2 separate regions of the Homo sapiens genome follow, and region 2 is linked to region 1. Evidence: fine-mapped expression QTL. A gene starts in region 1. The other region holds a variant in brackets. All regions are shown on one strand. Distances are from middle to middle. Region 1 holds the start of SLC17A2 (solute carrier family 17 member 2). Region 2 has its middle 27 kb from the start of SLC17A2.

Region 1 (2,919 bases):
GTTGTTAAATTGGTTTTAAATGTTTCTTTTTTAAAGTGGATTCTTCTGGCCTGGAATCCTCAAGATGAGTGGGGAGGAGTTCACCAGAAAACATAGAAGCAATTCCTTCAGTGTTAGAAAAACTGAGGGCCCTCTCATCATCTGCCTATCTTTCTGAGAAATTGGTGCTGACCACAATGTCCCTGGGTGCCTTTTCTTAGCTGTACAATGAGGGCAACAAGCTAGGTGATCTCTACAAGCGTACAATTTTCTTGCCTTCAGTCTTATTCATAACTTTGGTCATGTTCTCCTTTTCTTTTATTATTATTATTTTTTTGAGACAGAGTCTTACTCTGTCACCTAGGCTGGAGTGCAGTGGTATGATCTCAACTACTGCAACCTCTACGTCCTGGGTTCAAGCAATTCTCCTGCCTCAGCCTTCTGAATAGCTGGCACGCGCACTATGCATGCGCATAGGTGCACGCGCCGCTACGCCCTGCTAATTTTTGTATTTTTAGTGGAGACAGGGTTTCACCATGTTGGCCAGGCTGGTCTCAAACTCCTGACCTCAAGTGATCTGCCCGCCTCAGCCTGCCAAAGTGCTGGGATTACAGGCGTGAGCCACCAGGCCCGGCCATGTTCTCCTTTTCCTGAGAGACCATTTCAAATTCATATAGAAGTCTGAAAAGACTCGTTAGCCACAGTCCCAAACACAAATCTTGTCAGTTCTGATCAGTATTTCATTCCACAGCCAATCCCAGTCTGACTAATCACAGCATCACAGTTAATACTCACAGCGTCCTTGGAGAAATGACCATTGTCCACAGTGTCCATTGGTACCAGTGGCTTCTCAAGCCTTGCCCTAGGGTCTTCATTGAATCAGTTATCTTTTTCAGAGAGTCTCTTCATTTTGGAATTAGGCAATATTACCAGATGGAGATCCTTATGTTGCTGTTAATGTCTTTTCTCTGACTTCTCCTAAAACTGTTCCCTCCCCTTAATGGACCTTTGGTAAGTTAGTAATAATCCTTCTACCCAAAAAGAAGAAAAGCACTTACCTTCACCATTAAACCAGTATTTTAAGCCCTAGACTATAAGGCTAACTTGGAAAAGGAGGGAGTTTTCTGTCCCTTCTTCCCTTTCAAATACTTTTGCAGATTTTTACAGGGATAAATAGTGAGCCACGTGGCAGTCAGACGGCAACAGGTTTGGCCCCACTTTCTCAGAAAGCCTCGGCTTGGTTTTGCCGCTTAATTTTTAACTTCATTTTCAAGTTCTCACTGTTAGAGTATCTCAAAAGATGTCATCGTGTGTTTCTGCTTTGAACTGTGCATACAACCATTCAGTCAACAAGCCTTTTTTTCTGAAAGCAAGGGGGCATGGTGTGGAGGAAAGGGCAGGGCTCCTGAAATCAGTGATGGAGTCAGACCCATATTCACTTCCTAGTGTTTTCCCTGAGCTTGGACAAGTCACTGAACCTCTTTGAATTGGCTTCCGCTTTAGTAAAGCAAGGATTGTGTTACTGTACTCATGGGGTTATTGAACAAATGAAATACATATTCTAATTGGTAGTAGCTCCTCAATAAATGAGGTGTTCATTCCTCTTCAGGAGTTCAGTTAAGTCAGCTAGATTTTCCATATGCATTTGGTGCCCACAGCCTAATGAATGTGAACTGTGACTGCCCTGGCAACTTCCCAGGAAGCTGCCTTGTACCCCTCCTTCCTGTTTCATATCATCCATGTCTTCCCTAATCCATTTTCTGCTTGGCTCCCGACTCTTGGAATTGTGTCCTATTTGTAATCATTAATTTTGAGACTGTGGTTGCTATTGGATCTTCCTAGTGTGACGCAACCCTTATAAAATGAAATGAGAGCCTTCCCTCTCTGGCTTATCAGCTTCAGACTTCCTTAATTGAGTTCCGCCATCCTAGTGAGTCTCACCATACTCCCGAAATAACCTGCTGGAGTAGGCTTATCCTACTCAACTCCTCAGATCTCTGTATTTAATTCTATTTTATTGCTGTTGTAGTAAATTACCACAACTGTGATGGCTTGAAACAACACAAAATTATTTATTTATTTACAATTCTAAAGGTCAGAAGTCCAAAATGGGTTTCACTGAGCCAAAATCAAGGTATTGGCAAGGTTGTGCCCCCTCCAGAGGCTTTAGGGGAAAATCCATTTCTTTTTCTTTTCAGCTTGTAGTGACCACTGCATTTTTTGGCTCTTGGCCTTTCCTCCACCTTAAAGCCAGCAGTGTAACATCTTGAAGTATTTTTCTCTTATTCTGACTCTTCTGCCTGTCTCTTATAAGGACCCTTGTGATTACACTAGGGCCCATCTGCAAAATTCAGGAAAATCTGCCCATCTCAAAATTCTTAACTTATTAAACATGTAAAGTCCCTTTTGTCATATAAGGTAATATATTTACAGGTTCTGGGGATTAGGACATGGATATCTTTGGAGGACAACATTCAGCCTACCCTTTTGAGGGATAGAGGGGTAGCAGGAAGAGTTGAAACAATTCCTTCCTTTCTTTATTTAAAAATTCTGGTTATTGATTTATTATAGTTATCATGTGCCTGATAAGCCAATGAAAATAGTTATAATGGCCAGGGGCAGTGGCTCATGCCTGTAATCCCAGGACTTTGGGAGGCTGAGGCAGGAGAATCGCATAAGCCCAGGAATCCAAGACCAGCCTTAGCAACATAGGGAGATCCCGTCTCCACAAAAAAATGCAAAAATTAGCTTGATGTTGTGGCACATGCCTATAGTCCCAGCTACTCAGGAGGATTGCTTGAGCCCTGGAGTTCAAGGCTGCAGTGAGCTGAGATTGCACCACTGCACTCCAGCCTAGGCAATAGAGCAAGACCCTGTCAGAAAGAAAAAGAAAGAAAGAAAGAAAGAAAGAAAGAAAGAAAGAAAGAAAGAGAGAGAGAG
Region 2 (2,919 bases), 27 kb before region 1:
CAAGTATCCTCCCACCTCTGCTTCCCAAAGCGCTGGGATTACAGGTGTAAGTCATTGCACCCAGCCAAAAGTTTTATTTTAAACTTATTATTATGAGCATGTAACAGATTTATGTGGTTTGAAATTCAAACCTACAAAAGAAAATAATAAAAAGCTAACAGATAGACAAACAAAAACAAAAGCAAAACCCCACTTGGCCATGCTCTCTAGTTCCTCATTTCTCTCTTGGAAGAAACCAGAGCAATGTTCCCTGTGTATCCTTCCAGAGATAATTTTTTAAAATACTTTTTTCTTTTTAACAGAAGAGATGGTAGACTACTTCTTTTAAATTAAATTAATATACATTTACTTGTTTCTTTTTATTGCTATAGAAAATGAAGTTGGGGAAACAGGAAAAATGACCTAGTATTATCATACTAACATACCAAAATTTTTCAGTTATATGTATTTCCTGTTTCAGTTTTTACCCCACCTGTTTTTTATTTGGTTTGAAATCATAGTACAGATAAAAACTTGAGGCAGGTATTTTAGACTTGTTTTTCTTTTGTAACATAAAACTTTGAGAGCACCAGGAAATCTGGAAATATTCATTTAGTTATTCATAATTCAAAATATTGTTATATCCACTTTGTGTCAGACTATTTGTTAAGAACTAAACTAAAAGAAAAAGATGGGGCTGGACATGGTGGCTCACACCTGTAATCCCAGCACTTTGGGAGGCTGAGGCGGGTGGATCACCTGAGTTTGGGAGTTCGAGGAAAGCCTTGCCAACACGGTGAAACCCTGTCTCTACTAAAAATACAAAAATTAGCCAGGTGTGGTGACACACGTCTGTAATCCCAGCTACTCAGGAGGCTGAGGCAGGAGAATCACTTGAACCCAGGAGGTGGAGGTTGCTGTGAGCCGAGATCATGCCACTGCACTCCAGCCTGGGCAGCAAAGCAAGATTCCATCTCAAAAAAAAAGATGATAACACCCTCTGGGAGATTACATTCAGATAGAACAAATAAAGGTGTAGAACCTAAGATGTGACAAGGACACTGTTGGGTGACTGATTCTTCCTGGGAACATTTATAAAGGCTTCCTAGGGGAGGGCGTGTTTGTGTAAGAGCTTTCCAGGTCAGAAAGTATGTACAGTGGAAAATGTATATGAAAAGACCGTGTTTGGGAATCAGGGATTATATATTGTGATTAGAGGAAAGAGTCCTAGGGTTTGATACCTACAAAGAATTAGAGTTTCTAGGTGCTTCTGGACATGTGGATTGATGACAGCAATACTAAAAATACAAAAATTAGTGGGGCATAGTGGTGAGCGCCTGTAGTCCCAGCTACTTGGGAGGCTGAGGCAGGAGAATAGCTTGAACCCGGGAGGCGGAGGTTGCAGTGAGCCGAGATTGTGCCACTGCACTCCAGCCTGGGTGACAGAACGAGACTCCGTCTCAAAAAAAAAAAAAGAAAAAAAGCAGGAGTTAGCAGAAAACCAACAAGACATGGGAAGGAGAGAGAGAGCTGCAACACCCAAGAGAAAAAATAGCAATGCTGAAATCAAAGTATAATGAAGGAGAGAGGATGCTGGAAGCTATGAAATTCTTTCTGTGAGGCAATGGGGCAATGACCCTAGAACTGCTGAGTTAGCAGCAGTGACAGACTCAGTGCCAAATCATATATTAGAAAAAAAAATCAGATAGAGGTAAAGTCCAGATCCAAAGAAGAGGGTTTTTAGCAGTAAAGCAGACAGTAGAACCCACCCAGCTTTCTAGGGTGCAGGGGGCCTCCCTT[T/C]CAGGCATCATGAACAGTGGGGGACCATAACTAGGCATGATGGCTTCAGATACAGGGCTTGTTCATCTCTTGTTGTGGTCAGGCACTGCCTAATGAGAGCAACCCCTTCCAAATGCTACTGCTGTGTTTAACTAGGGCTCTTGATAATCTGACCAGCTTCTGTCTTACTGATTTTAGGAGAAAAATGGAGCAACCTGCAAGATGAGTGGGATTAGCTTCGTGCTGTCTCCCATGCACACCACTCATGCACACTTGGCGAGCATGGCAGTTCCATTTATTTTGCACCCAGTTGTGATTTAAAAACTTTTAATTAATTAGTCTTATTAGTCTTCAGTTGGATTTAAATGCCAAATAATAACCTTCTACCTTGTAAGAGGAGCCCTTTTACCTAAAGCAAGGCTTAAGTTTGGATAAATTTTGTCCTATTTATTATTCATCCACAAGCTCTCTTAAAACACTGAATACACACTAAGAAGGCTCTCAGCACTCCGAATAGTGTGATAAATCAAAAGCCAGTAACTTCTCAAAGTCATTGTGTATTAGTCAGGGCTCTCCAGAGAAATAAAACCAATAGAACATATATACATGGGCTTTTACCCAAATGTCATCTTTTCAATGAGTCCTCTTGCCTGCTTAATTTTTCTTTTTAGCATTTGCCACCTCCATATAACATGCACTTTACTTATTTATTGTCTTATTCTCTTTCACATGGGCAGGGGTTGCATTTGTCTGTTTACTGCTGTATCCCTAGCACCTAGAGTGGTGCCTGGCATACGGCTGGTGTGTGATACATATATTTGGAGTGGAGGTAAAAGTCACCACTTAGGCTATCCACTTTTGTGACAGGGACAACACACGTATCACTTGTCATTGTACCTATAGCATCTCACCCAGAGCCACAAAAAAAGTGGCTCAAAGTATATATTAACAAAGAACAAAATGGAATAATCCCATCTGAAGGCGAGGATATAATAAAAGCAACATACCTTTTTTTGGAAGGACATGGAGAGCATCAACCTTAAGACTAAAGACTAAACTTGAGAAGCAATTATTACATTTCTATTAAAAATTACCAAATACAAATAGTTAACTTTGAAGAAATATATGAATAATGATGGTATCTGCAAAAGAGGAAAAGAC

What was found. PIP is the estimated chance that this variant, and not a neighbour inherited with it, causes the effect.
Region 2: its variant is fine-mapped to the expression of SLC17A2 in testis (GTEx, PIP 0.95).

The regions. Positions count from the first base shown.
Region 1 is chr6:25,929,503-25,932,421 of GRCh38, forward strand. SLC17A2 (solute carrier family 17 member 2) reads right to left here and starts at 1,189. Exons shown (of 12, transcript NM_001286123.3): 1 at 775-1,189.
Region 2 is chr6:25,902,060-25,904,978 of GRCh38, forward strand. No RefSeq gene overlaps it. Among named protein-coding and RNA genes, the nearest start is that of SLC17A2, 27 kb to the right of the region's middle. The variant T/C (reference allele first, on the strand shown) is at 1,780.